Linked DNA regions of Homo sapiens. The gene in region 1 interacts genetically with each later gene. Each region holds a gene or a part of one and is shown on either strand. Other genes may lie near its edges.

What was found.
Region 2: changes in TUBGCP3 (region 1) and SAP18 together harm fitness more than expected from each alone (negative genetic interaction), as found in Homo sapiens cells (one large-scale study listed by BioGRID).
Region 3: changes in TUBGCP3 (region 1) and SSB together harm fitness more than expected from each alone (negative genetic interaction), as found in Homo sapiens cells (one large-scale study listed by BioGRID).

What each region holds. Positions count from the first base shown.
Region 1 is NC_000013.11:112,525,511-112,529,165, reverse strand, and holds part of TUBGCP3 (gamma-tubulin complex component 3), read left to right. Parts: intron 1-1,681; coding exon 1,682-1,792; intron 1,793-2,115; coding exon 2,116-2,224; intron 2,225-3,655. UniProt on the Homo sapiens protein: Component of the gamma-tubulin ring complex (gTuRC) which mediates microtubule nucleation.
Region 2 is NC_000013.11:21,143,105-21,146,498, forward strand, and holds part of SAP18 (histone deacetylase complex subunit SAP18), read left to right. Parts: intron 1-1,987; coding exon of another isoform or gene 1,988-2,180; intron 2,181-3,394. UniProt on the Homo sapiens protein: Component of the SIN3-repressing complex. Enhances the ability of SIN3-HDAC1-mediated transcriptional repression. When tethered to the promoter, it can direct the formation of a repressive complex to core histone proteins.
Region 3 is NC_000002.12:169,801,823-169,805,477, reverse strand, and holds part of SSB (lupus La protein), read right to left. Parts: intron 5-3,655; coding exon 1-4. UniProt on the Homo sapiens protein: Binds to the 3' poly(U) terminus of nascent RNA polymerase III transcripts, protecting them from exonuclease digestion and facilitating their folding and maturation.

The DNA.
Region 1 (3,655 bases):
GATCTAGGTAATAGGCCAGGCATGGTGGCTCCTACCTGTAATCCCAGCACTTTGGGAGGCTGAGGCAGGCAGATCGCTTGAGCTCAGGAGTTTGAGACCAGCCTGGGCAACATGGTGAAACCCTGTCTCTACCAAAAATGCAAAAAATTAGCCAGGCATGGTGGTGTGCTCCTGTGGTCCCAGTTACTTGGGAGGCTGAGGTGGGAGGATGGCTTGAGCTGGGGAGGCAGACGTTGCAGTGAGCCAAGATCATGCCAGTGTACTCCAGCCTGGGCCACAGAGTGAGACCCTGTCTCAAAAAGAAAAAAAAACAGATCTAGGTAATAAAAATAACTCAATAGAAATACTGAAAGAACATGATGGACAATATTTTCATAATCTAGGAATGGGAAGATCTTAGGAAGACAGGAAACTCAGAAACCATAAAGGAAGACTGACATTTATCTACATATAACAAAAAAATAGATCAGAACTAAAATATGGACCATACTATAAACAATGGCAAATGATTAACTTGGAAAAATTAAATCTCTAATATTTAATGATTCACAAATGGTCACTATTCCTAATGTACAAAGAATTTTTGTATATTGATGAGAGAACAAAATGAATAGCAAGATGGGTCAAGGGCATGAAAAGACCATTCACAGGAGAAGAAAAGCAAATGGCAATTAGAACTATGAAAATATGCTCGGCTTCATTTTTGGTTAATGACAGCAATATAGGATAACCATGATTCCACCTGACTGGCAAAATCTAAAATGAGCCAGGATGCAAAAACAGGACATCTTGCCCGTGGGAGCGTCAGTCTACACAGCTGTGTGGAAAGGAAACCTGGCATTGTCTATAAAAACTAAAAGCTACTTTAATTCAGCAGTTGTGCTTTTATAAAACAAGTTTATAGAAATAAAAGTGCAATTCTATTAGGGTGTATGATTGAAAAATGAGAATGGCTGCATTGTTGTAGTGGCAAATAAACTGGAAGCAACAGCAATTGAATTTTCTCCTTACTGCTCAGTTTCCTTTCTAACGGCAGTGATGTAGGTGCCCGTCAGGGTCAGGGCAGGGGAGCTGCATGCCAGTGAGGAAGAAAGCTCCTGAGCACAGATGGTTCCTGGGGGAGCCACACAGGGGTCACTTCTACAGTGCCACCTGGCTGGTGCTGGCCCCTTGTACACATGGGTACATGTACAGCAAGGTCTGCCCATAGAGCTTGGGACTTGTCTGTGAACAGAGGACGCCGGCCTGGGCACCTCTGTGTTCCAGGCTTTGGGGCTTTGCAAAAGAGAGACTGCAAGGGCAGGCAGACTGATGGGAGGAGACACACAGCTGCTGCCTGTGAGGGAGGGGAACCCCAAAAGCCTGCACCGTTACTGAGGAAGAGCTCCGTGTGGCCCAGGAAGCCTCAGTATTATGCTGCAGAGGCACTAATGGACATTCTGAATCTCCAAGGAAGACATAACTTGTTTTTGTTATACTTTAGTTTTAAAAGTTTAGGAAATACATAGTTCAATTTAGAGAGATTTCTGTGTTTCATACAAGTTTTATTGTATAAATAGGTAAGACTCCCTGTGTCTGGAGAACTTGGCTTTCTAGAATAACTTACTCTTTGATGTTGCTGTTGGTTAATATTTTGCCATAAATATCACTCTTGAACATTTCCATGCCCCTTTGCTTTCAGTTTTTTGTAGCATCAGATCCAACAGTTAAAACAGATCGACTGTGGCACGACAAGTATACTTTGAGGAAATCGATGATTCCTTCGTTTATGACGATGGATCAGTCTAGGAAGGTAGGATTAGAAGAGATTTTTGTGATTTTGATGTTTTATGGCTATGTATACTTAGATTATGTGACAAAACCAATTTTCAGTTAAAATTTCATGCGTTTTGAGATTGTTAACGTTCTGGAGATGAAGTAAGTGCATGTTAATTGAATACATCAGTATAGTATGTGTTCAATATATCTTTGAGTTACTAGAATTCGCTCCATACTGTAGCAGATGCTCTTGTTAGTTTTCAATCAATAGCCAATTTGTAGCTTACGAATATTTGTAGATTTGGGCAGTCGTTTTAAATTTACATAAAAGTAATCATAGAATGTTTTTCTTTTTAGGTCCTTTTGATAGGAAAATCAATAAATTTCTTGCACCAAGTTTGTCATGATCAGACTCCCACTACAAAGATGATAGCTGTGACCAAGTCTGCAGAGTCACCCCAGGACGGTATGATGATGCTGGTGGGGTGGTGATGATGGCAATGGTGTGATGTTGATGATGATGTGAGGATGGTGATACTCATGGTAACAGTGATGTTGATGACGTAGTGATTGTGATGGTGTGATGATGGGGATGATGGTGATGTGATGATAATGATGTTGGGGATGGGTGGTGATGATGGCGATGATGAATGCGTGGTGGTGGCAGTGATGGTGGTGATGATGTTGATGGTGATGATGATGGGGGTAATGATGGTGGTGTGATGATGGTGATGTGATGATGTTGGGGATGGATGATGGGGATGTGATGATGGTGTGCTGGTGGTAGTGATGATGGTGATGATGATGATGGTGATGATGTGGTGATGGTGTGATTATGGTGATGTGATGATGTTGGGGATGGGTGGTGATGATGGCATGGTGGTGGCAGTGATGGTGGTGATGTTGATGGTGATGATGGTGATGGTGTGATGATAGTGATAATGATGGGGATGGGTGGCGACGGTGATGATGGCGTGGTAGCGGCAGTGATGGTGGTGATGATGTTGATGGTGATGATGGTGGTAATGATGGTGATGGTGTGATGATAGTGATGATGGGGATGGGTGGTGATGACAGCGATGATGATGGCATGGTGGTGGCAGTGATGGTGTTGATGATGTTGATGGTGATGATGGTGGTGATGATGGTGATGGTGTAATGATAGTGATAATGATGGGGATGGGTGGTGATGATGGTGGTGATGATGGCGTGGTGGTGGCAGTGATGGTGGTGATGATAGTGATGGTGATGATGGTGGTAATGATGATGGTGATGTGATGATAGTAATGACAATGATAATTGTGATGGATGGTGATAGTAATGATATGATGATGGTGATAGCGGTGATGATAGTGGAGGTGATGATGATGTGCTGATATTACAGATTACTTAAAAGTATTTTTTGTACCATAGGATTTATAGATTATTAGAATTACTCTCTGATACACCTTAATACATAGTATTATGTATGTATATATATAGTACTGTGTAAATTTTTAATTTCCTTTTTATACAGTTATACAGTAAGTGTTGGAATAGGTATAGCTGTTTTAAAATGATAAAGTGGCAGTGTGCCAAAATAAGAAATAACAGAAAAAATATTGCTAATGGTAGCCTATTCTTTGGGATGCAAAGGCTTTGTTTGGAGAAGAGCCAGGACTTATTGCACTTATTGTGTTTATTGCATTCAGAATGTCGCATGAGCGTTCAGCCTGTGGGAAGTGCTGAGGCTTTCCCTCGTTCTCTTCCTTTTCCCCATTTGCCGCCTGCCCCACCCTCAGTAATTTCATGATGTTTTGTGTATGGCTAACTTATATTTATAGCTCTCCAGTTTTGGCTGTATTTGCTATTTATATTGTCATGGTTCATTCAAAAGATTTACTTTGCGTAGGACACT
Region 2 (3,394 bases), about 91 Mb from region 1:
ATGTACTCATCTATTGATGGACACTTGGGTTGTTTCACCTTTTTTGCCATTGTGAATAATGCTGCTGTGAACATTGGCATACAAATGTGTTTGTGTCGCTGCTTTCAGTTCTTTTGGGTATGTACCTAGGAGGGGATTACTGGGTCATATGTTAACTTTGTTTAATTTTTGAGGAACCACCAAACTTTTTCACAGCAGCTGCACTATTTTATATTCCCCAAAAGATGTATAATTTTAAACTATTTAAGCCCTGTACACTAGAGCTAATCCCTTGAAGATTGGGACCTTACTTGTCTTATTTGGAGGTGCTTGTTAAATTTATGTAGTAGTATGATACCTGTACTTAAGCATCACTCAAGGGTAAGTGTTCTAGGAAGGTTGATTTAGCTTATATGGAAGAACTGTTGAATAATGGCTTGATGAAAATCTCTTCAGAAATTAAAGTGTATGTTTCTTCCAACAAGAGTTCCTATTTGCCAGGTGCTGTGTGTGCTTAGATCCTGAGGGTATAAAGTCAAGACGGTACTGCTCCTCCCTGTAGTAAGTCCTTTTATCAGGGAAAGCGGATGAATAGAGTGATTTTTAGGGTTAAAATGGCAGGGTGAGGTTGTTCCACAGACCTTCCACTCTGAATCAAGAAAAAAAATTACCAAAAAAATCCTGTCCTAAACTATACCGTCCATAAATTGCAACCAAACAAAGAAGGAACAACTTTAAGTTACATCTCAAAATGGTGGCCAAAGAAAAGATTCTGAAAGACTGGATGATTGGTATGGGGGTAACACAAAGGCCTGCCCTCATTCCCAGAAATAGTAATGAGGGAAAATTAGTTAACATATACTGGAAATTCTCAATTTGGAGAAGTAGACTGTGGGGTTAAATAGGCAGTCCCAAGAGAAGTTATGGAAACAGGAGTGGAAGTCCAGAGGAGCCCAGTAGAGGCAGGCTGTGTTCACCAAAGTCAATCAGGGCTCAGCCAGAAAAACAGAATTGGGAGAGATGTGTTAAGAGATTTATTTCTGCTGGGCGTGGTGGCTCACGCCTGTAATCCCAGCACTTTGGGAGGCCGAGGTGGGCGGGTCATGAGGTCAGGAGTTGGAGACCAGCCTGGCCAACATGGTGAAACCCCGTCTCTGCTAAAAATACAAAAATTAGCCAGGCATGGTGGCGGGTGCCTGTAATCCCAACTACTTGGGAGGCTGAGGCAGGAGAATTGCTTGAACCCAGGTGGCAGAGGTTGCAGTGAGCCGAGATCAGCGCCACTGCACTCCAGCCCGGGCGACAGAGCGGGACTCCATCTCAAAAAAAAAAAAAAAAAAAAAAAAAAGCTTTATTGCAAAGAATTTGGTTTACGTGATTGTGGGGGCTGTCTAGGCCCTTAATTGTCAAATCTGTAGGGCAGGTTCTCAGGAAGGAAAGGCTGCTCTTAGGGCCTTTCAACTAATAGAATCAGGCCTCCCCAGATTATATAGGATAGACCTCTGAATTTAAGGTCAATTGGTTGTTGACTTTAGTCACATCTATAAAATATCTCACAGCAATACCTAGGTTAGTGTTTGGTTGAATATCTGGGGACTGTAGCTTCGTCAAGCTGACACAAGTACTGAACCCCACCCTGTCCTCAAGCTTCTGACTAGTGATGAAAAAGCAACACTTGGCACTCCAATTGTTGGTCTGGAAAGACAGTCCTTAGAAGGTGGGAAGCTTGTGTAGGTTTCACACTGTCAGAACTGATAAAAGGTGTGATATAAATCCCCCAAATTAATTAAGAGCAAGACAATATTGAAAATATTTTTAGAAAGGAAAAAATTCTTTCTGGTATATATCATCATAAGTATGTACTGTGTATCAGAATATAGACTGAGCATCGCAAGTCCAAAATCTGAAATGCCACAAAATCTGAAACTTTTGAGAGCTGACGTGACACCGGTGGAAAATTGCACACATAAGTTCTTGACCTCTTTTTTTTTTTTTTTTTTTGAGACAGAGTCTTGCTCTGTCATCCAGGCTGGAGTGCAGTGGCGCGATCTCGGCTCACTGCAACCTCTGCCTCCCAGGTATAAGCGATTCTCCTGCCTCAGCCTCCTGAGTAGCTGGGATTACAGGCGTGCACCAAACTTCCTTTCATGCACACAATTACTTAAAATGATGTATAAAATTGTATTCCAGCTGTGTATAAGGTATGTTTGAAACATAAATGAGTTTCTTATTTAAACTTGGGTCACAACCCCAAGATATCTTACGTATATGCAAAAATTCTAAAATTTGAAAAAACCTAAAACGCTTCTAGTCCCATGTATTTTGGGTAAGGGATACTGAACCTATAATTGATACAGAATAGTTAACATCAAAATATCAGGTTGAAAAAAGGTCACCTCTGAGACAGATAAACCAATGTGACCTCAGGTTTTTTTGTTTTTGAGACAGAGTCTCAGTCTGTCACCCAGGCTGGAGCACAGTGGCACAGTCTTGGCTCACTGCAGCCTCCGCCTCCCAGGTCAAGCGATTCTCTTGTCTCAGCCTCTCGAGTAGCTGGGATTATAGGCTACAGATGTGTGCCACAACGCCTGGCTAATTTTTGGATTTTTAGTAGAAACGGGGTTTCACCATGTTGGCCAGGCTGCTCTCGAACTTGAGCTCCTGGCCTCAGGTGATCCACCCGCCTTGGCCTCCCAAAGTGCTGGGATTACAGGCATGAGCCTCCGCACCTGGCAAAAAAATGTATACTAGGTTATTTCTAAGATGCTTATATGTTAAAATATTTTTTTCAGATTGTTCTCTTATTAGCTCAGGGGACTATATGAAAGTTGGATTCAAGTCAATATTTGCAGGGTAAGAAACTATTGTGACAAGAGCCTGTGCTTCATTGTAAGAAACTTTTGTATATTTCATTGGCTCTAGTACTCTTATCTGTTGTAAAACTTACAATTCTATCTAAGAAAGAAGAAACACATCTGGCTGGGCGCAGTGGCTCACGCTTGTAATCAATCCCAGCACTTTGGGAGGCCAAGATAGGTGGATCACTTGAAGTCAGGAGTTCGAGACCAGCATGGCCAACATGGTGAAACCCTGTCTCTACTAAAAATAGAAAAATTACCTGGGCGTGGTGGTGGGCGTCTGTAATCCCAGCTACTCAGGAGGCTGAGGCAGGAGAATTGCTTGAACCTGGGAGGCGGAGGTTGCAGTGAGCTGAGGTCACGCCACTGCACTCTAGCCTGGGCGACAGAGCGAGACTCTCTCAAAAACAAAACGTCAGTATGAAAATGCTTTCCTAGTACATTGATTCTAAGATACATTCCAATTTCAGAGATGCTAAAATGTGGAAGGGTACATGTCTTAGAACTAATGGGATACATCTATTTTGCATATTTGGATTTATTTGGACTAGTTACCC
Region 3 (3,655 bases), on another chromosome or scaffold:
AATACTGTGAGATAATTACAATGTATTTCAGAACACTGTATAATATGGACTCCAATCCTGACATTACTCTACAGTACCAAGTTCTGTTATTTAAAAATACATAAGTTACAAAAGGCAAAACACTTTCCCCAAATATACAATAATGTTTACAAATTAGCAAAAAGATAAAACTAAAATGTCAATTACTAAAATAGTGTAACAGATGTGTCAATAGACTAGAAAACCTTAAAGAAGAATATATTTAAAGATTATATGAAAAGGCTCTTGCAAATCAGTGTGGAAAGAACAGATGGTTAAATAAAAAGAACTGGAAGAAATTGGTTAATCACTCAATTCTTATTTTTTTTTGAGACAGAGTCTTACTCTGTCGCTCAGGCTGGAGTGCAGTGGCATGAACTCAGCTTGCCGCAACCTCCGCTTCCCAGGTTCAAGTGATTCTCCTGCCTCAGCCTCCTGAGTAGCTGGGATTACAGGCATGTACCACCACGCCCAGCGAATTTTTGTTATTTTTAGTAGAGACAGGGTTTTACCATGTTGGCCTTGAACTCCTGATCTCAAGCGATCTGCCCACCTCGGCCTCCCAAAGTGCTGGGATTGCAGGCATGAGCCACCACACCTGCCCTTCTAATTTTTTAAAATTAAAAAATAAGGGACGGGGCCAGGCACGGTGCCGCACGCCTGTAATCCCTGCACTTTGGGAGGTCAAGAGATTGAGACCACCCTGGCCGACATGGTCAAACCCCGTCTCTACTAAAAATACAAAAATTAGCTGCACATAGTGGCACACACCTGTAGTCCCAGCTACTCAGGGGGCTGGGGCAGAAGAATCATTTGAAACCGGGAGGCAGAGGCTGCAGTGAGCCAAGATTGTGCCACTGCATTCCAGCCTGACAAAAGAGTGAGACTCCATCTCAAAAAAGGGGGTGGGGGGCCAGGAGTGGTGGTTCATGCCTAATCCCAGCACTTTAGGAGGCTGAGGTGGGTGCATTGCTTGAGTCTAGGAGTTCAAGACCAGCCTGGGCAACATGGCAAGACCCCAGCTCTCCAAAAAATAAATAAATAAATAAAATAAATAAGAAATAGAGGTACGTGCCTCTAGTCCCAGCTCAGGAAGCTGAAGTGGGAGGATTGCTTAAGCCTGGCAGGTTGAAGCTGCAGTGAGGCATAATTGTGCCACTGTACTCCAGCCTGGGCAACAAAGTAAGACGCTGCCTCAAAAAAAAAAAAAAAAAAAAAAGTTAAAGTAAATGTTTCTCAAATTTAAGCATAGAGGAACTCTCAATATACAAGCCAAGGAAAAACCCAAGTATGACTATTTGGAATGCCAGAAGTAACATAAAAAGTAAAAGACAAACAAATTTTGTCAAGAATTCTTACAAACAAAGAAGAAGGGTAAAAAGAGAACACCCTAATAGAAAACAGTTAAAGGATATTTTATTGGCCTCGCACGGTGGCCCAAGCCCATAATCCCAGCACTTTGGGAGGCTGAGGCGGGTCAATTTCTTGAGGCCAGAAGTTCGACAACAGACTGGCCAAAGTGGTGAAACCCTGACTCTACTAAAAATACAAAAATTAGCCACACATGGTGGTGCACGCCTGTAATCCCAACTACTCGGATGGCTGAGGCACAAGACTAGCTTGAACCCGGGAGGTGGAGGTTGCAGTGAGCTGAGATCACCGCCACTGTACTCCAGCCTGAGAGGAGAGCAATACTGTCTCTCTGTCTTAAAAAAAAAAAAGACACTATTTTTCAGGGATCGGGTCTTGCTTTGTTGCCCAGACTGGAATGCAGTGGTGCAACCACAGCTCACTGCAGCCTGAAACTCCCGGGCTCAATTGATCTTCCTCCTCAGCCTTCCAAGTAACTAGGACGACAAGCACATGCCACCATGCCCAGCTAATGATTTTTTTAAAAATTATAAAAAATAGGCCAAGCGCAATAGCTCATGCCTGTAATCCCAGCACTTTGGGTGGCCGAAGCAGGTGGATCACCCGAGGTCAGGAGTTCGAAACCAGCCTGACCAACATGGTGAAACCCCGTCTCCACTAAAAATACAAAAATTAGCCGGGCATGGTGGTGTGCACCTATAATCCTAGCTACTTGGGAAGCTGAGGAACCTGGAAGGTGGAGGTTGTGGTGAGCCAAGATCACGCCACTGCACTCTGCACTCCAGCCTGGGAGACAAGAGTGAGACTCCATCACAAAAAATAAATAAATAAATAATGTACTGTAAACTAAAAAAAAAATCCAACCTCATTTCATTGTTAATCAAAGAAATACAATTTAAAGCAACGAGACAGCATTTTTCACCTAACAAACTGGCTAAGATTAGAAAGAAAACCAAGACTACCTAGTATTGACTTGAACACAGAGAACTAGCCATTCAGGTAGATGTAAACTGACAATTATCAGTGTTTTTTAAATGTGCATAATCCTTGAGCCAGTATGGCTCCTTCTAAGAATTTTCCTTGAAGAAATCAATAAACATGTTTACTAAGATTTATATATAAGAATATTTGTCAAAGAATGATTACAGCTAAAAAAATTAGAAACATCCTTCATATTAAAGAGGAGAATGAAAAGATTATTGATTACAAAACTTTTCTCCACAAAAATGCATCCTATATTTAGCGGGGGAAAGGGAAGGAAATAAAATTGTTAGAAATGTACCACTCTGGTGGGGGATGTTTTAAAAGGTGAAGGCACTATGCTTGTGTGGAGGCAGGGGATATATGGAAAATCTCTGTACCTTCTGCTCAATTTTGCTGTAAACCTAGAACTGTTGTAAAATATAAGGTCCACTAAAAAAATTAGTATGAGCATGAAGCAAAGTGTCAAAAGCTTTTAACCTTGATAACCTCAGAAGAGTAGGATTTGAGAGTTAGCAGGTTGTGGGAGAGATACAACCTTTTCTATATACATCTTAGTATTGTTCTAAGTATTAAACACAGAATGAATAATTTCTAATTTTTCTCCTCATAGTCATAAAGAAATTAATACCAAAAAAAGGAACATGAGACATTTTAAATGCAGAGACGTGCAGCTTAAAAAAAAAAAAAAAGCAGTTCTGAGAATTGCAGAAAAACCCCACACCAAACAATATGATCTGAGGGGTTCTTAGCAAGAACCTAAGTTTAGAGATAATTTCCCATGCAACCATTATCGATATTGTAAAGATTTTAAGGTTTTTTTCTTTTTGAGTTTAATTGAACAAAGAACGATTTGCAAATCAGGCAGCCTCCCCAGCCAGAGTATGCTCACGAAGACTCTCAAGTTTCTTCCCCTCGCCCCCTGAAACAGTGTCTCGCTCTGTCATCCAGGCTGGAGTGCAGTGGTATGATCACAGCCACTGCAGCCTCTACCTTCTGGGCTCCATCAATCCTCCCACCTCAGCTTCCCAAGTAGCTAGGACTACAGGTAAACTGCTAACACACTCAGCTAATTTTTAAAATTTTTTTGTAGAGATGGGGCCTCATCATGTTGCCCAGGCTGGTCTCTAACTCCTGGACTCAAGCCATCCTCCTGCATCAGTACTGCAAAGGTACTACGGATCACTTGAGGTATTACGTTAACATAAACATAATACCTAAATTTGAAAAAATGCTAAGAGGGTTTTGAAAACAGATACTATATTAAAGTTACTGGCTGGGCACA